2 separate regions of the Homo sapiens genome follow, and region 1 is linked to region 2. The links come from fine-mapping of genetic effects on gene expression. A gene starts in region 2. The other region holds a variant in brackets. All regions are shown on one strand. Distances are between the middles of the regions.

Region 1 (10,123 bases), 38 kb after region 2:
ACAGAGTGAGACTCTGTCTCAAAAACAAAACAAAACAAAACAAAAAGCAAAAAAAAAAAAAAAAGAAAAAAGAGGATAAAGTGCTTTAATAGTACAGTTTCATTTGTCCACTCATAATGTGAATTTATTTATATGGTAAAAGATTTGTCTTGTTTTGTGGGAATCCTTCCATTAATTTCCTCCTGCAGCCCCAGTGTGGGGATTAGGAATATGGGCTCTGATGCTGGGTAGACCTGGGTTCAAGTTCTGATTATGCCATCACTTGCTCTTTGAACAAAATCCTTAGCTACTTTATGCCTCAGTTTCCTCATTACTTAATATAAGACAATACCAACTTCATAGGGTTTTAATTTTTCCACGTGTATATGTGTAAAACATAACTTTATTCCTGGTAAAGTACTATGCTGTCACCCTTAAGTCGAATGTTTGTGCCTTGTTAAAAAAAAACACTGGTTTAAAACACCTACTTGTGGTCGGGCGCAGGGGCTTGTGCCTGTAACCTCAGCACTTTGGAAAGCCAATGTGGGAGGATTGCTTTAGTCCAGGAGTAACATAGGGAGTCCCTTGTCTCTCCAAAAAAAAAAAAAAAAAAAAAAAAATTTAAATTATCTGGGCACGGTGGCACATACCTCTGTCCCAGCTACTCAAGAGGCTGAGGCAGGAGGATAGCTTGAGCTCAGGAGCTCCAAGACTACAGTGAGCTGTGATTGTACCACTGTACTCCAGCCTGGGCAACAGAGTGAGACCCTGTCTCAAATAAATAAATAAATAAATAAATAAACCACCTATTTGCATAGAAAGAAAGTATACTAGTAAAAATCTGTGGCTATCAATATATTAAATTATTCTGAGTACCTCTGATAGACTCTCAGACAAGATTGAGTTCTTTTTTTTTTTTTTTGAGACAGAGTCTCGCTCTGTCGCTCAGGCTGGAGTGCAACAGCGCAATCTCAGCTCACCACAACCTCTGCCTCCCGTGTTCAAGCGACTCCTCTGCCTCAGCCTCCTGAGCAGCTGGTACCACAGGCACATGCCACCATGCCTGGCTAATTTTCGTATTTTTAGTAGAGACGGGGTTTCGCCACATTGGCCAGGCCGGTCTCAAACTCCTGACCTTGTGATCTGCCTGCCTCGGCCTCCCAAAGTGCTGGGATTACAGGCGTGAGCCACCGCGCCTGGCCAAGATTGAGTTCTTGATGGAATTTGGATTTAAGTTATTATAAGTATTTACTAATTCATACTGGCTTTCCCAATTATTTTTACTTGGTGATTTTTGTCTTGTCCTTAAATATCAAAGCTGTCTACACAAATTAAAAGAGAAAAAAGCTTACACAAACTTCTAATCCAAAGTAAACCTTTATCCTTCCTTTTAATATTCTGCTTGTTTGTAAATATTTTACATTATTTATATCACCTCTAGATAAATATAAGACAAAGACATGCATTTACCTAGTTTTATCCAATTCTGGGAAATGGGGTCTTGCCTGTGCTGGTAATATAGGGTTGAATTCACATTCATGTACTTGTCTAACCATACCTGGTCCTTTAGCTTGATGCTGTTTGAAGAAAATAAAAATATATTTTGAAAATGAACCTATAATATGGAATTTTATTTTACAGTTAACTTGAGCTGAATTTGTATGTAAATTATGTTAATCTTAACATTTTTGTGGCCTACTTCGTATTAGTATTGTAGAGACTTCAACATGAGCAATAATAATAATAGCACTTACGTAGTAGCTAGTATGTAAATGCACACTATGTATACTAACTCTTTCAATCCTCATAACCACCATGGAATGAGAGGATCTCTAGCTTAAAAGAACTAATTAAAAACTAGGAACAAATAACTATTCAACACAAAATAAGCCCTTATGAAGCTTACTGTCTAATTGATGGGACAGACATTTATTAATATGTGAACAAATATGTATACTTTAAAGCAGGGGTATCCAATCTTTTGGCTTCCTGGGGCCACATGGGAAGAAGAATCGTCTTGGCCCCACACAAAATACACTAACACTAATCATAGTGGATGAGCTTAAAAAAAAAATCGCAAAAAAACCTCAATGTTTTAAGAAAGTTTATGAATTTGTGTTGGGCCACATTCAAAGCCATCCTGAGCCACCTGGGCTACATGCACCTTGTGGGCCCTGGGCTGGACAAGCTTGCAAGGAAAGCTGGGGTCTCAGCTGGTCTTGGGAGCAGGAAGATCTTTCCTTAGAGGTGACGTTTGAGCTTTGGTCTACAGGATCATTAGGAGTTGTGTGGTTTTTTTTTTCCTGACATCAAATATGTCATTCTAACACCAACTAACTGTGACCCCAACTAGGTGTCCCACAGTTCAATTCTAACACTAACTACTCAGAGTTAGTGTGGACCCCACAAATTAAGGGCTCAGTCCCACAAAACTGCCCCCCACTTCAGACTTCAGACACTAGCTGCAAATGGAGTCTCCAGGCTACCTGTATGTCTACCCACCAGACTACAAAGTTGGGGGTTCCCATGCATCTCCCCTTCCCCAGTTTTGATAATTCATTAGAGTGACTCACAAAACTCGCAGAAATTACTATATTTATGATTACAGGTTTATCATAAAGGATACAACTCAGTCAAGTGGAAGAGATGCGTAAGGCATCTTTTGGGAGATGAAGGGGTAGGTGGTGGGGTGTGAAGAGTTTCCATACTCTAGGTAGATACTTTGATGTGTTCGCCAACCTGGAAGACCCCCAAACCTTATAGTTCAAGAACTTTTATTGAGGCTTTATTACCTAGGCATAATTGATTAAATCAGTGGCCATTGGTGATTAAATCTCCAGCCCCCGCCTCTCCCCAGAAACTGAGATGGGGCTGCAAGTTGTTTTTTTTTTTTTTTTTTTTTTTTTTTGAGATGGAATCTTGCTGTGTCACCCAGGCTGTAGTGCAGTGGCGTGATCTCAGTTCACTGCCACCTCTGCCTCCCAGATTCAAGCAATTCTCCTGCCTCAGCCTCCCAAGTAGCTGGGATTACAGGCATGTGCCACCATGCCTGGCTAATTTTTTTGTATTTTTAGTAGAAACGAGGTTTCACCATATTGGCCAGGCTGGTCTCGAACTCCTGACCTTGTGATCCACCCACCTCGACCTCTCAAAGTACTGGGATTACAGGCGTGAGCCACTGCTCCCGGCCAGGGGTTGAAAGTTTTAACCCCCCAATCGCATAGCTGGTTTTTCTAGCTACCAGTCTCTTAAGCTAGCTGTCTAGGGACCTCACCAACAGACATTAGCATAAAAAAGACACTTAGCACTCTGGGAATCCCAAGGGTTTGGGGAGCTCTGTCCCAGGAACCAGGGACCGTGGCTAAATATTTATTTTTTATTATGTCACAGGAGTTTAAATGGCCTCTGGACAGCCAGAGAAACTTGTTATTCAGATTGTCTTCAGAAGAACTTACAGTGGGGAGCATAGTCAGCTGACGGCCCCAGCTGCCACCCTTTTGGATCCATTACACCTTGCCTGTGAGTGCTGGCTTGTGCTGCACCCATCCCAGCCAATGGCTGAGCATTCCAGGGTGCCAGTGCTGTTGCAGGACTGCCAGGCTTATACGCCCTCTGGGCAGCAACAGACCCATACACTGACAATGGCACTTGCAGCAGAGAAAGAGTTTAATCATCGCGACATTCTCAGTGAGGAAACAGGAGGAATTCTCAAGCCTCAAGTTTGTTTCTTCCATGGGTTCTGGGCAAGGGTTTTTAAGGGGATTCATGGAGGGTGAGGGGCTAGAAAATCTGGGGTTGTCCATTGGACAGCTCAAAGCTGGGCTAGTGAGCAACAACCAGCTACAAGGAAGTGGACCAAAGGGCAAGCTGGCTTAATGATTGCTGCTGCAAGCCCGGTTGGATTTTATTGTTTTGTTTTTCTCTTGCTCAATTTTATACAATTTTCTTGGGATGGTTTTAGTGCTAGCCTATTCCTGGCCCATGCAGAACTCCTCTATTAGGCAACTTTTGCTGGAAGAC[T/C]CCCCATATTCGTGTCCAAGATTTTCTCAGAACTGTATAACACTGAGGATCTTGCTACTCAATCCTCTTTCCTTCGGTCCTTTCATAGAATGAAAGTTGTCAGACTCAAAATGAGGTCACTTGTGTCAAACACGTGGAGCTGGGGCCATGAAGGGAAGATTCTCATGCACATATGCCTCATAACAAGAACTCTCACAAAAGGCTCTGCAAAAACTACAACTTTGCACAAAAGCTACAACCTTACACAAAAAGTACTTCTGCAAGGACATCTGCCTAGCAACTGTCTGTCCAGCCTTGGACTGATTCTACCCTTGTTGATTTTTGTAGCCAAGGATATTTGTCTCAAACAACTTGTATCACCCTCCTTTCCTCACTTTTCCTTAAAAAACCTTTGTCTTCCTTTGCCTTCTTGAATATACCCACTGTATTCCCATTGCAATGCTCAATCCAGAATAAATATGATTTTCTTTGGGAGGGCCTCTCTCACTGTCTTTTATTTAGGTTTTGGCAATAGTAATCAGACCTAGTCTTGTTCTCAAAGCTTTCCTTCCCTACCCCTGCTCCCACTTTCATCCTTCACAAGCATTCCCCCTTATCCATCTCTTGCTTGTCTAACCCCATCTTGGTGTCAGCTTCTGAAGGACTCAAACTAATACAGTCTCTAAAACACCCTACTGCAACCTCAACACTTAGACATCTTATTTATGTCTGTTGTTGGCATGCTGTCTATGCAGATTGGGGAAACCCATTCTTTTTCTCATTTCCTCCTTCAGGGCCCAGAAAAACATTTCCTAATTTCCTTGATCCAACCTTAATGCGTCCCACCAGTTTGTTATGCTTGAGGGAAGGAAATAATCTTTGTAATCCTTCTCTTCATCCCCAAACTCTCAAGGGAGATAAAAGGAGAATAAATGATGGTTTGATAAGAGCAGTTCATCATGGCCAATCCTGATTTTTCTCTTTTCTCCTTAAAAAGCATTGTTAAATTTTGTAAAGTATTTTGTAATTATAAGATGGAATACAAGGTGGGATATACAATAATAAAGTCACTAAGTTATAGTGTTAAATTTTTATCAATATCACTATTTAGTGTCTATTTTCTGCAATCCTGAAGTATGGTTTCTTATGTCTGAGACAGAACTTAAGTCATTTTGACTCACATTATTTGCATCTGAATAAGCCACATAAAATATTCTGAAATGAAGTACAAGTTTTAACAAACTTATTAGAGCATATTAGAACTGTTTTCACTATTTCTTCCTCACTGCAATGTTCAGATGTTCAATTTCCTTCTCTATATGATTATGAGAATAAAATTCTGCTTATAGATGCTAAGTGGCCTGAATGCATCAGTCTAGTATTCTTCCCTGGAGATGGAGAATTGGGTAATGCTGGAGTTCCTTTTAATGTTATGAAATAATAGTACATTGGAAGATAGTATCTGTGATTGATTGTAATGAGTAATCTTGATGGCTCAATATAGATGGTTATTCATTAGGGGATTATTTAAGTCAATCTCTAGCATGCAGAAAGTTTATAAAGCAACAGATAGTATTTAACTCTTCCTAATGACATGTCTCAATGAGCTGGGTAGATGTCTCAATGATTATCAGATACTAATACTACTACTATTTGACTTATTTTTGAAATGAGAAATGTAATGAAGCATTGGAATCCTGTTGTAGCATAAAGTAAATTAGTTATGATCTGGAAAAATTAAACTGGGTACCCCTGAGAGACTAAAACCAAAATAACAATTAGTAGCTCATGTGTTTTCCATGATTAGCCATGTGCTAGACCTTGTGTTAAGTATGTCAGGTACATTATTGAATATTCTTTTCATGATAAGCCATTTGCTACCTTAAAGATGAGGAAACTGAGTCTTGAAAATAAAATGATTTTCCAAGATCTCATGGCTTTTTGAGTGACAGAACCAGTATTCAAACCTATGTCTATCTACCAAATTTTGGATCTTGAATATGATGTACAGATGGAGAATAGATAGAAGGATTGATAGTACAGCTAGCTAAGGTCTTATCATTGTTTTTTTTTTTTTTTTTTTTTTTTTTGAGATGGAGTCTCGCTCTGTTGCCCAGGCTGGAGTACAATGGCGTGGTCTCAGCTCACTGCAAACTCCGCCTCCTGGCTTCAAGCGATTCCCCTGCCTCAGCCTCTCGAGTAGCTGGGATTACAGGTGTCCACCACCATGCCTGGCTAATTTTTGTATTTTTAGTAGAGACGTGGTTTCACCATGTTGGCCAGGCTGGTCTTGAACTGCTGACCTCGTGATCCACCTGCCTTGGCCTCCCAAAGTGCTGAGATTACAGGCATGAGCCACTGCGCCCAGCCCTATCATTGTTTTATATTGACATTAAGAAAAGAGAAGTTCTATAGGCTAAAGAGAGTGGTAATATCGAAGCAGTAATGTGACATTTACAGTTGCAGAGAGGGGAAGATTTCTTTCCTTACCTATCCCTAGGTTCATGGCTGATATCCCTATAAAAAAAGACAGATTAACAAGAGAAAAGCATACCCATTCATTTAACATAAGTTTTATAGGACATAGGAGCATCCAAAAATGAAGATTCAAAGAACCAGGGAAAACTGTGTCTTTTTATGCTTAGGTTTGATGAAGAGTGGATAGTATATAGAAGTATGATTGGTCAAAAAGGAGTATGGTCTAATGACATAAACTGGGGAAGCTTAGCAAGTCCTGTTTGTTCAAATTCTTTGTGTCTCTATGTCTCCACTTCTTTCCTATGGGTTTAGGGAGGAGGGAGGATCCCTCTGAAATGAGGATATTATGACCTACCTTAGAGGAAGGTCAGAGAAATTTTTTATGGCTTGCTTCAGGGGAAAAAGATGGGAGAAGGTCAGAGAGGCTTTCCTCCTTTTGCTGTTTTCTCAAATACCAAGGTGCTATATTTTGGGATAACATGTCGTGAACCCCATCATAGCTTTAAAATGATTTGAATAGAGAAGTACTTTGCAGGAGAAAAGTTTCTCTGGGGATTCCCTTTGTTCTGCTGCTTTTCACAAATGACAGGTGAGCTTGGTAGCCTTGTGTTAGTGTTACTGGCAAGGGGTCCTGATCCGGACCCCAAGAGAAGGTTCTTGGATGTTACACAAGAAATAATTCAGGGCAAGTCTATAGAGCAAAGTGAGAGCAAGTTTATTAAGAAAGTAAAGGAATAAAGAGTGACTACTCCATAGGCAGAGCAGCCCCAAGGCTTGCTGGTTGCCCATTTTTATGGTTATTTCTTAATTTTATGCTAAACAAGGGGTGGGTTATTCATGCTTCCCCTCTTTAGACCATCTAGGGTAACTTCCTGATGTTGCCATGGCATTTGTAAACTGTCATGGTGCTGGTGGGAGTGTAGCTTTGAGGAAAACCAGAGGTCACTCTCGTTGCCATCTTGGTTTTGGTGGGTTTTAGCTGGCTTCTTTACTGAAAACTGTCTTATCAGCAAGGTCTTTAGGACCTGTATCTTGTGCCAACCTCCTATCTCATCCTGTGACTTAGAATGCCTTAACTGTCTGGGAATGCAGCCCAGCAGGTTTTAGCTTTATTTTACCCAGCCCCTATTCAAGGTGGAATCTCTCTGGTTCAAACACCTCTGACATTAGAGCAGTTATCTCACTCTCACTGTGCAACCTCAACAACATAGTAACTTACAGTGATTTTTTTTTCAGACTTCTGATCATAGCCTGCAGTGAGCAATTCATTTGACATCATGACCTAGTACCTGACTGAGTATATATTAGGGTATATATAACTGAAAAAATTTCACAAAACAATTTTCACCTTTATTATATGTGATGTACTCTGACAGTTTCTATTCTTGTTCATTAAAAATAAATCCACTGAATTGATTTCATAACCCATTAGAGGGTTACCTCCTACAGTTTGAAAAGCACAGTTCTATGCATGGCAGAAGAGACAGAGTGGATGAAAAGAAAAAAACATTTTGGTTTGATTAGATCAAATTTACATTCCTGTTTGTGCAGGACGGTAGAAATTATGGTCCTGTTTAGAAGGAATTTCCAACTTTTCTGCACTGGATTCCATTCCTCAGTATGGTACGCATTTGTGGTCTGCCAAGCCTTGGGGAGCAATCATTTTTGTTCAAATACAATATCACCAAAAATGAATGGGAATTGCTAAAAAGTCTTTGGCAGCTGGAACGGTGAAACAATAAATCAACAGGATGATGAAAGCTTGAAAACATATTACTAACAATAATCAGTAGAACCATAGCAGAAATGAGAAAGAAACTTAGTTCAATTACACAGTAAGGTTACTTACTTCAAAGTCAGTAGAGTGCTGTAAGGTTATACATATTAAGGTTAATTGCATCTATTCAGAATGTATTTGAATCTGAAACAAAAGCTTAAGAGGAAAGAAAATAATCAAAGGGAGATGACTGCATTTGAAGGGTCTATTCTATATCAGAGAATCGGCTGATGATGGTTCCTTTGTTCTGTAATGTTTGTAATTCCCTGTCCCCCACCCCCTGCAAATATGAAGACTTAAAAGAAAATCCATTAAAGTCCTGTAGAAAAACTGAAGATGTTTACCATCATTAAAACTCAAGGGCTAGTATTGCCCATTGTTTGTTTTACTATGGTACTAGTGAAAGCAGAAACCTATGCTACCTAATCTTGTAAGAAAAGCTGAGCCCCTGCTATAAGAAATCTTTATATTAAATATTTCTCTATTAAAAATCTTCAGAATATGTTTCTCTGATTATAAAAGTAAAGTCATATCTGCTTGTTATAAAAACTCAAACATTTCAAAAATAATACAGAATGTGAAAGTCCCCTGCAATTCTGACCCTTAGAAATAAACACTTCAAAGAGTTTAGTGTAAAGAAATCTCTAAAGTACAGATTGCACTCTTTGACTCTTTATTCCAAGTAGAAAACCTAGGGCCATGATGCCTAATATGGTTTGGCTGTGTCCCCACCCAAATCTCATCTTGAATTGTAGCTCCCATAATCACCATGTATTGTGGGAGGGACCCATGGGAGGTAATTGAATTATGGGGGCTGTTTTTTCCTGTGCTGTTCTCGAAAGTGAGTAAGTTTTATGAGACCTGATGGTTTTATAAAGGGCAGTTCCTCTGCACGTGCTCTCTTGCCTGCCACCATGTAAGATGTGCCTTTGCTCCTCCTTTGCCTTCCACCATGATTGTGAGGCCTCCCCAGCCATGTGGAACTGTGAGTCCATTAAACCTCTTTTTCTTTATAAATCACCCAGTCTCAAGTATGTCTTTATTAGCAGCATGAGAATGGACTAATACAATGCCCTTTGATTTCTATTGCCAATAGAATGTGACAGATACTCTTTTTCTAATCTTTGTTTTAAACTGTGATTGCACTCCATCATATAGACGGATCTTGTTTTTCACTTTGGCTTATTATTTAGTTGCACAAGGAAACAACCTTTGTTCTCACAGTGGCATCTTGGATAACATGTCTTATCTAGTATTCTTTCTAAAAATGTTTAACCTAATCGAATCATGAGGAAATAATCTTTTCCTTACATCCAGATTGTGAAGCATTCTATAAGAAAAGTTACCTGAACTCTTCAAATATGTCAGTCATGAAAGAAAGAAAAAAAAAGTCAAGGAAATTGTCTGAGCTCATAGGAGTCTACAAACACATGTCAAACCATAGAAATGTGTAATCCATAATTGGATCTAGGATGAGGTAAAGGTAGGGAAGAATATTAAAATGGAAACAATTTGGAAATTTGAATATAGACTATTAGGCAATATTAATGTTAAATTTCTTGGTGTGATAATGGTATTATATTTAAGTAGGAGACTGTTTTTATTTTTAGGAGATACATGCTAAAATATTTAGGGATGATGTGTTATGACCCTGCAGCTTATTTTCATATGGTTAAAAGAGAAAAAGCAAATGTGGGAAAACATTAACAGTTGGTAAATATAAGTAAACAGTATATGGATATTCATTTTAATAATATATAACTTTGCTTGTTAGGCTTAAAATTTCTTTTCTTTTCTTTTTTTTTTTTTTTTTTGAGACGGAGTCTCCCTCTGTCGCCCAGGCTGGAGTCCAGCGGCGCGATATCGGCTCACTGCAAGCTCCGCCGCCTT
Region 2 (10,785 bases):
CAAATAAAGTCCCTGTCCATGAAACTTAACATTCTAGCCTCCCATTATGGTGTAAAAAACAGTGGGAAAGAATCAGTTAGGCCGGGTGCGGTGGCTCACCCCTGAAATCCCAGCACTTCGGGAGGTTGAGGAGGGTGGATCGCTTGAGGTCAGGAGTTTGAGACCAGCCTGGCTGACATGGGGAAACCCTATCTCTACTGAAAATACAAAAATTAGCTGGGCGTGGTGGCAGGCGCCTGTGGTCCCAGCTACTTGGGAGGCTGAGGCAGGAGACTCAGGTGAACCTGTGAGGCAGAGGCTGCAGTGAGCCGAGATCCCGCCATTGCATTCCAGCCTGGGCAACAGAGCAAGACTCCATCTCAAAAAAAAAAAAGTTAAAAATATGGGTATACAGTACATAATCCATGTGATTACCAATGTAAGCTTCAAAGTATTGTTAAAACATGTTTTAAATCATGTTATCATTGCAAAATAGTAAAAGTACTGTCTTATTTTTGGAAATGAATAAATGCCTGAAAATTAGTTTGACAGGTTTTAGTTTTCACGTATCAGGATTGTTTATAATGAAACATATATGTGTCTAGTTTTTTTTACATGTTACACTATCCTAATAATAACAAGAGTTGTGGGGGTGGGAGGAGGGAGAGCATCAGGAAGAATAGCTAATGCATGCTGGGCTTAATACCTAGGTGATGAGACAATCTGTGCAGCAAACCACCACGGCACACATTTACCTGTGTAACAAACCTGCACATCTAGCACATGTACCCCGGAACTTAAAATAAAAATTGAAGAAAAATAAAAGTAAGAGTTACAGTTTTCAGGAAAGTAATGGAAACTAAATGACTACCGTTTCATACAAACTGAGTTTTGTTCAAACTGCTTTAAAATTTGATAATAATCTCTTAAAGTTTCTTTTCTACTTTTCCATGAGAAACAGCTTTGCTAGTGCAAAGTTTGATTATGACTTCTATTAAACCATTAATTGTAAAATGCTAACTTTATTCAAGATGCTACATATTTTGCCTATTTTTAAAAATTATTTTAATCTCCTAAGCAGGCTAATGAACATTAGTTCTTAGTTTCAAAAGAGAAGCTTACCTAAGAAAAAGTTATTTAACAAATATGACAAGATATATTTATTTCTTTTTGATTTTTCTTTTAGAAAGACAGGGGTCTCACTATGTTGCCCACCCTGGGTCTTGAACCCCTGGGCTCAAGTAATTCTCCCACCTGACCTTCCAAATTGCTAGAATTACAGGCATGAGCCACCATGTCCAGCCCAACAAGATATATTTCATAAACCTTAAAATGAATTACATTTTTAAAATACAGTGTGAAAGTTTTTCTTTAACTCATTGACAAACATTATTTTCTATTTTCCATAAGATTTCCAAATATGCCCTACACCTAGGCCATTTTTTTTTCTTTCCTAATATTTACCTTTTGTCAGCTTCTCATTGCTTTCAGTACTTCCAAGTTCCCTAAAGTTATTATCAACAATCTTCTGCCTCATTATTGGTCATTGCCTGGACCAACAACTCCCAAAAGAAGCAGAACAACCCCTTAGGGACATTCTGAAAGTACGTGAGGCCCTGTTTGGTTGCACAATAATTTGAATAGAAGGGAGGGTATTTGGTGGATGGGGGACCATTGATCGTAGAAGTCCTAAAATATATGAGACAAGCCTGTGTAACAAAAAACTGTTTGCATCCCTCAATTTTAAAAGATTAAGTAGGTGAAAAGTTTATGATAATCTTAGTCCAGAACTTCATTATATATAAATATATCATTATTACACTGTTTTAGTACAGACTGAATCTTCCATAAGTGCAAGTGCCATGTAAATTGAGGGAGATTCCACTGTTTTGTTCAAGTTTTTACCAGAAATTGTTCACCATTTAGGAGAAATAAGTTTGTAAAGAACAATGGTCCTTCTGCTACTTGAAAAGCCAATATAATACATTTGATAAACAATTTGCATTGGTAGCTGTCACATACACAGTGATTCTACAAATTGGTGTAATATGACAGCAACTAATAATTACTTCATTATGTTTTCTAATGTAGTAATGTCTAAGTATTTACATATTTAAATTGTAGACATGTTAACATGTTATTTTCTTTTTTTTGAGACAAAGTCTCGCTCTGTCGCCCAGGCTGGAGTGCAGTGGCATGATCTCCGCTCACTGCAACCTCTGCCCCCTGGGTTCAAGCAATTCTTCTGCCTCAGCCTCCCTACTAGCTGGAATTACAGACTTGTGCTACCATGCCCAGCTAATTTTTGTATTTTTAGTAGAGACACGGTTTTGCCCTGTTGGCCAGGCTGGTCTCGAACCCCTGACTCAAGTGATCCACCCACCTCAGCCTCCCAAATTGCTGGGATTATAGGAGCGAGACACCGCTCGCAGCCTGTAGACATGTTATTGTCTAATAAAATATTTCACCTTTATGTCTCAATTAAAGCATTATATTGATTATTAAAAGTTATGTTTACAGGTAGATTTTATTGTCTATGAATCTGACTTCAGGATTTCAGGATATTACAGGACACAGACAGTTTGAGAATCACTGGCCTACACTTTAGCCTTCAAGTACCTGGACTACTAAAGATGCTTCCTATGTGGTACTCTGGATTCTGTAAACTCTCTCCTCTTCCAAGTAAAAATACCTACACATGTAAAAGTCACCAATATTAGTTCTATCTTCCAATTACCACAGCTCCCAACTACCTTGAAAGCCTGATACTCGGATTTTTACGACTCTCCACAAAAGGATTACTTCTGCCTGATCTTGTTCAGCTGTATCATACACTGAATACTATATCCAGAAATCCTTATTTCTAAGGAGTCAGCAAGTCATAAGGGAAAAAGTGTAGCATTTGGAATCGTAGATCTGCCACTTACCAGGGATGATCCTGGACCAGTTACTTAAAACTTTCTAAATCTCTACTGCCTCATTTTTTTTTCTTTGTTGGAGACAGGGTCTAGCTCTGTCTCTCAGGCTGGAGTGCAGTGGCGAAATCATAGCTCACTATAACCTCAACTCCTGGGCTCAAGTGATTCTCCCGACCCAGCCTCCCAAGCAGCTAGGACTACAGGCTCACACCACCACACCCAGCTAATTTTTTTTTTTTTTTTTTAGCAGAGATGGGGTCTCCTGTGTTGCCCAGGCTGTCCTCCAAACTCATGGCCTCAAGTGATCCTCCTGCCTGGGCTTCCTAAAGCGCTGGGATTACAAGCCTAAACCACCACTTGGGCAATATTTCATATTGAATGTTGAAAATTACCATGCAACTGTGCATATATCAGGTTAAAGAAAATACATGGTTAAAATCAAACCCACCTGTTTCTCTTCAGTTGTTTAATATGGCTACAAAAAACTTAAAAATATGCCGGACGCGGTGGCTCACGCCTGTAATCCCAGCACTTTGGGAGGCCGAGGCGGGCGGATCACGAGGTAAGCAGATCGAGACCATCCTGGCTAACACGGTGAAACCCCCGTCTCTACTAAAAATACAAAAAATTAGCCGGGAGTGGTGGCAGGCGCCTGTAGTCCCAGCTACTTGGGAGGCTGAGGCAGGAGAATGGCCTGAAACCGGGAGGCGGAGCTTGCAGTGAGCCGAGATCGCGCCACTGCACTCCAGCCTGGGCGACAGAGCGAGACTCCGTCTCAAAAAAAAAAAAAAAAAAAAAAAACGTAAAAATACGTATGTGGCTCACAATATGCTTCTGTTGGACAGTTTTCTGTTAGACCCTTCCTTTTTCCAGCTCTACAGTTCATCCTGAATACACCACTTGGAGTTTCCAACTGGGCCCTGTTTCTGTGCCGGAGACTTTGGAGACAGTAGTCCTGGTACCCGAAACACTTTTTCCCCTTCTCCTTGCTGAATGGACTGTTTTTATTCATTCAGATCTTAATTTTTAACTACAGCTTTCTCCAAGAAGCGTCCCTGATCCCACCACGTCCCCTGCAAGACGTTTTTAGGGCCTCCTATGAGATAGGAAAATCCACATACAGCACTTATTTTACTGTATTTGCAATTGCCTGTTTTCTGGTTTGTGTCCCAGACAAGACTGGAAGCTCCTTGAGGAGACAGATCCTCAGAACTGCTCCGTCTTCCACGCCCAGGCGTCAAAGCCCAGCACAAAGCGGTCTCTCCACTGAACAAGTGAGCGCTAGGGCACAGACCGTGAGCGAATGCGGGGGAGTACAAAGGTTCAAGGGTGAGGCGGTAGAGGGGGCTGAAGCAGAAACTACAAGGGAGCCAGAGAGGGGTGGGGGCCGCTGGCAGGACTCACCAGTCTCTGCTGGTCGACGTCGGCGTCTGGCCGTTTGGCCGAGGGCTGCAAGTACTCAGCGTAGCGCAAACTCTCGCCAACTGGAGCGATGACACCACGGGCAGCCATGGCAAGGCGGCCCGGAGACTCAAGGCGCCGCGGCAGTGACTACGAGGCGGCCGTAGGGACAAACTAGTTAGCGCGGTTTCTTCTCGCAGATCCAGTGGACTCTGCGCTCGTTGTGCTATTAAAGGCGAGGTTCCCGGAAGATACCCTTCTCACCCGAGCTGGGTAACGTGTCCCGTGCAAGCACGGGGTCACACTCCGAAAGGAGCCAAGGGCACTGGGACGTTCTTGAATCACACTCACAGGCGCAAAGCCAACGCGGACCCTCAGGGAGCTTTATATACTTGGGCCTGGTCCCTCCCCAGGCCGCCGTAAGGGACTGGGCTTAAGCCCTGCGAACTGATGTTGGTCGAATCAGATGACTGCCCAGTAAGCTCGGAGTCTAGCTGTAGTGCCTGAGGGTGGGCTTGCCTGAGCTTTCCTGACCCCCTTCCGGGCAGCCTTTCTTCCCACTCTCAACTTCTGTTCGCACTTCTGTTTAATGCCACAGTTCTACCACCCCGGGAGAGAAATTAAAGAGGCAATTTGCTTACTCCACCCCCAAGTAAATGGCTGTATTTAAGGTGAAATTACACAGAAGAAAGTTGTGGCCGGGTGCGGTGGCTCACGCTGTAATCCCAGCACTTTGGGAGACCGAGGCGGGTGGATCACACCAGCTTGGCCGACATGGTGAAACCTCGTCTCTACTAAAAATACAAAGATTAGCTGGGTGTGGTGGTGCGTCCCTGTAATCCCAGCTACTCAGGAGCCTGAGGCAGGGGAAAAAAAGTTGTGAGCAAGTAGGTAAATCTTACTCTCCCTCAAATGAGTTTGTGCTGATTTGTATATATAAAAGCCCATTTTATTATTAAGCTTTTTTTTTTTTTTGAGATGGAGTCTCGCTCTGTTGCCCAGGCTGAGTGCAGTGGCGCAATCTCTGGCTCACTGCACCCTCTGCCTCCCGAGTACCTGGGATTAAAGGCACGTGCCACCACACCTGGCTAATTTGTGTATTTTTAGTAGAGACGAGGTTTCACCATGTTGGCCAGGCTGGTCTCAAACTCCTGACCTCAGGTGATCCGCCCGCTTCAGCCTCCCAAAGTGCTGAGATTACAGGCGTGAGTCACCGCGCCTGGCCTCCATCAAGTTTTTAGAGCAAAAATTAACCAGCAGTTGAAGCGTATGGTGTTTTCCAACTTCTGTACCAACGTGGCAGCTCTTTGGCTCCTTATACCCTTTGCAAAATCAGCTGACAGGAAGAAAAAGCTTTATTTTTTTTCTATTCCTGAATTTAAAGTTTTGAGGGTCTATTAATTTGTTCACTTAGTTAATATTATTAGCATGTCTAAGAAGTTAGGTCCTAGAAATTTACAATCTTGTAGGGAAGATAACACTGACACAGAATAATAGTACATACCAGAACATGAGCACATGCATTGCATAGCAGTATAAAGAGAACTGGACTGGGAATTAAACCGCCATTGCAAAATTACAACTGAGAAAGAGATCTGACCTAATCAACACCATCTTGCTTCTAACCTCCAAGCTGTCTTGTACATTCCTGGCCGTAGGCCAAACTAACTTTGGGAGGAATGTAATTCATAGTTTATAGTTTGAAACAAAGATGATAAAAGCCCTTTCCCAAAACAAACCTCCTTCTTGCCTGGGGACTAGACTGCCTTTGTAGGACTAACAAATTAGCCACAAGATCAGAAATTATGACTTAGGAGTCATGCAGCTGGAGGCTACAAGATTCTGACCCTCCCCAAATTGCTGCTGGAGCTAACATCACTATTGTAAAAACTACCACCAGTGCTTGAGATATTTTGCAGACCCCGCACTTGATGAATCAGCTGGCATCACCCAGATCGATAAACTGGCTCATCTGATCTCGTGGCCCCCACCCAGGAACTGATAACGCAAGACAACTTGGACTCCCTGTGATTTCATCTTTGACCTGACCAATCAGCACTCCCAGCTCACTGGCTTCCCCCTACTCACCGAGTTGTCCTTAAAAATTCTGATCCCCAGCTGGGCGCGGTGGCTCATGCCTGTAATCCCAGCACTTTGGGAGGCCGAAGGTGGGTGCATCATGAGGTCAAGAGAGTGAGACCATCCTGGCCAACATGGTGAAATCCCATCTCTACTAAAAATACAAAAATTAGCTGGGCGTGGTGGGTGCCTGTAGTCCCAGCTACTCGGGAGGCTGAGGCAGGAGAATCGCTTGAACCTGGGAGGCAGAGGTTGCAGTGAGCAGAGATCGCGCCACTGCACTCCAGCCTGAGGACAGAGTGAGACTCCGTCTCAAAAAAATAATAATAATAAATAAATAAATAAAAAATTCTGATCCCTGAATGCTCTGGGAGACTGATTTGAGTAATAATGAAACTCCAGTCTCCTGCACAGTCAGCTCTGCATGAATTACTCTTTCTCTATTGCAATTACCCCGTCTTTATAAATTTGGCTCTGTCTAGACAGCCAGCAAAGTAAACCCATTGGGTGGTTACAGGAATAAGGAAGACATCTGAGTTCTAGTGTACCTCCATTATTTTCTGGGCTTGTATAACTGAACATATCCATTAACCTCTCCAAATTACCTGTAAAAGGAGAATAACATTTGTCCAACATTCTGACTCAGGGAAGTTGTGCAAACAAATATAAACCTCAAAGAACCAATCCTTCAAGATGGATCCCAAGTGGCTAACTAGGACTAACTTAAAATAGAGCCAAACCTTCCTTTTACACTGAAATCTGTGGCTCTCAGGTTTGCAAACTGTTTATTGGGATAGTCTCTCTCCTCTAAATTCCTTTTCAGAGAACTTTTCATTTACATAGGGATAAAAAAGAAAACGACAGGATATGGAAGCAACTTGTATAATGCACTTATGAAAAGAATTACAACCATAGTGCTCTTGGACTTTACAGGAGGGAATGGCCACTTTTAACAGGGGTCATCAGAGAGGTTTAGTGAAGGCTTAGCCATTGAGATGAGGTAAAGAATGGGTAACATTTCTTTAGATGGAAGAGAGGAAATGCCAGAAATTTCAACTGGAAACAAATGGAAGGAAATGAAAAACACTGATTTATAGGACTGGGTAAAAAATATTCCAGGACTCTTCACAGAAATAATCTCATTACAGAAATTAATTTTTGTTAAACGGATCCACGACTATGAAGGACACTAGTAAACTAAGCAAATGAATTGGATCAAGGCCTACAGGTCATTCTTCCATTCATTTATTTATTCAGTAAATACTTATTGAGTATCTGTTAGATATGAAGAACTATGCTAGGCATTGGACCTATACAGTCAAACATACAAATAAGGTCTCTGATTCCTTGGAGTTTGGAGTATTCTAGTGGCTGAGCCCTAGCAGTAACAGGCTGCTGGCCTGAAACAAATGAACAATTAGAGCAAGACCCAGCTTAGCTTCAGCTCCTGTTAGGGCAGCTACTGCCCCTGCTCAGGAACTGGAGAGAAGCTTTCAGAGCAGAAGCCAGGAAAAGGGGGAATAGAAGAAGTGGGAAGGGGAGAATATAGCAAGGTGGAGGTGAGGTGGACTCAGCAGGGTTGCATGTCAGCTCAGACCCCAAACTATTGAGATCAGATAGCTGGCTGCTTGTAGACTCGACTGACCTCATTCCACTGCTGCCTCAGGCATCCGCTCTTGCAGATGTAGCCAATTTTAAAGAAAAATCTCATCCACAAAGATTACTTAGTTCCCAGCCTTTGGTTCTTTGGTAAATTCACCCTCCTCAGCAAAGAAAGGATGGAAAAAAGGGCCATGAAGTCCTTTCCTCTCCCCCACAAGGATCTCTTCCTGATTTAGTTAAACTCAATTTTCTAGCTTCTTGAGAACAAAGAAAAATATTTTTGTGAAACCCAAAAGGGAGGCCACATTAAATTTTCATTGGCCTACTTTTATTAGTTACGCCACTTCAAAGACAGATTACATTATGTTCAATAGACTTTGTAAAAGAAAGGCAGATTGCATTGGTAGTATGTCTTCGAAACATCTCAGTGGAAAATGTTCTAAAAATTTATTGTTTGAAAGGAATTTTAACAAAGACAATTGACCTCTCTGTGCCTCAGTTTCCTCATTAGTAAAGTAGGTGATAATAATAGCACCTCTCTTGTAGGGATTAAATGAGTTCACTTTTGAAAAGCTCCTAGAACAGTGCTTGATACTTAGTAACTTCTACAAAATTGTTAGTTACTATTTTCTTTATGTTACCTCTTTCACCGATTTATTTCCTTGTGTATTTTCTCTCACTAGCTCTGCCTCCTTCCCCCAGCAGTTGTGTTGATCCCCAACCAATTGTCTTGTCTTTGAAATTACAAAATCTGACTAACATCGCATAGTGATAAAATATAATTGTGGGAGAGGAAATAGTTGTTTTCATGAAAATGAAATTAAATGCCTTGGAAATATTTGATAAAACAGGTTATTTTTAAAAAGCTGTTGAATGGTGAGCATGGGAAGAGAATCACAAACACTGACTATGATTCTGTACTGTTTGCTTTTAAAATGTCTTGCTCCACCTTCATTTTAAACAAACTCAAATTAGGAATCATAGAGGATGGATTACCAGTGTGGAAGAAATCCAAGGCAGAACTGAACCAGAGGACCCACATCCAAATAAAAGGCCTTGGCCCTGCAGCCCTGCGGATGTACATAGAGTACACATACAGTGTGTCTGTTGTGACACTAAAATTTCATGTGGGTAGAGGGAGTGTATTAGAAGAAAAGTCAAAAAAAAAACTTTTGGGTGGAGATAATGAAGAAAAAAAAGGTTGAGAAACAGTAATTTATATATGTTGTAAAAAAAAAAATGGTTAAAGTGTCCAGGCACGGTGGCTCACGCCTGTAATCTCAGCACTTTGGGAGGCTGAGGAAGGCGGATCATCTGAGGTCAGGGGTTTGAGACCAGCCTGGCCAACATGACGAAACCCCATCTCTACTAAAAATACAAAAATTACTGGCCGGGCACGGTGGCTCACACCTGTAATTCCAGCACTTTGGGAGGCCAAGACAGGTGGATCATGAGGTCAGGAGTTCAAGACCAGCCTGGCCAAGACGGTGAAACCCCGTCTCTACTAAAAATACAAAAAATTAGCCGGATGTGGTGGTGGGCGCCTATAATCCCAGATACTCGGGAGGCTGAGGTAGAGAATTGCTTGAACCCGGGAGGTGGAGGTTGCAGTGAGCCGAGATCGCACCACTGCACTCCAGCCTGGGCGACAGAGCAAGACTCCCTCTCATAAAAAAAAAAAAAAAAAAAAAAAAAAAAAAAAATTTGCGGGCGTGGTGGTAGGTGCCTGTAATCCCAGGCTCTCAGGAAGCTGAGTCAGGAGAATTGCTTGAACCTGGGAGGCAGAGGTTGCAGGGGGCTGAGATCGCGCCATTGCACACCAGCCTGGGTGATGAGAGTGAAACTCCATCTCAAAAAAAAAAGGTTAAAATATGTATATTGTTGTGATCTCAGATTTTAATTGGTTTTTCAATTAACCCACCAACCACTAGCCTGGTCTGGTCAGAAAAGAGGCTGGCTTTACTGTATGACAAAGTGCAGTGGGCACCAAAAACGGGCCTGAAATGTTCAAGGAAGGAGTCGGAGAAGCCAGCATCAAGATGACAATGGGGGGATGAAAACAAATTTGCTGAACTGATAAATATGAGGCAGACTTGGGGAAACAATGTGTGAGAAAGCCTTGTATGTAAACAATACTAAAGTCATTCAGTTTTGCTGAAGTTTAAAGTATAAAGAAACGACTGAAGATGGATGAGGGTGGACAGATAACTAGACAAAGGCCAAGTATTGAACAGCTTTATATAATAAGCAGAGGCATTTAGACTTTATCTCATAGGTAAAAGCAGGACATCAAAAAATGTTGAATCTGGCAGTGACATGATCAGATTTACATACTAAGAAGATCATTGTGGCAGCAACGTAGTGATAGGCCAAAGCAAAAGGAGGGAGATCAGCTAAAAAGTTATTGCAATAGTCTAAGAGAGGCTGAGCCCTAAACTAGGGCACTGGCAGAAGATATGGCAAGGAGGAGTATAGTGGCTTTAACTGGATTCTTCTCCACATTTAATCCCTCTTGGCCCCACCTACCATGGACCCACCTATTGACTTTGTCCCCTATTCTCAGGGTGGCCCCTGATTGACCTAAGCCAACTGATGCATCCCATCACTCTAGCCATGATGTCTGTTTCATGGATGGACACTTTGCCCTTCTGGGACATTGGGATTATAGAAAAGGTTTGTTGGTTATTTCTGGGACAGCAGCTTCTCTCTTTAGCTGGACATGAACAGAGAAGTGTGAAGCACTAATTGTAGTTGGCAGTCATTTGACAACCATAAACTAGGGTTAACATTTAATTTATCATCCAAA

The links.
Region 1: its variant is fine-mapped to the expression of DNAJC15 in subcutaneous fat (GTEx, PIP above 0.99).

The regions. Positions count from the first base shown.
Region 1 is chr13:42,979,509-42,989,631 of GRCh38, reverse strand. The region is part of intron 1 of EPSTI1 (epithelial stromal interaction 1); the gene reads left to right. Among named protein-coding and RNA genes, the nearest start is that of EPSTI1, 7.7 kb to the left of the region's middle. RefSeq lists an enhancer at 3,526-4,027. The variant T/C (reference allele first, on the strand shown) is at 4,000.
Region 2 is chr13:43,017,251-43,028,035 of GRCh38, reverse strand. DNAJC15 (DnaJ heat shock protein family (Hsp40) member C15) reads right to left here and starts at 4,450. Exons shown (of 6, transcript NM_013238.3): 1 at 4,302-4,450. The coding sequence starts at 4,409. RefSeq lists enhancers at 3,952-4,001, 4,512-4,561, 4,572-4,631.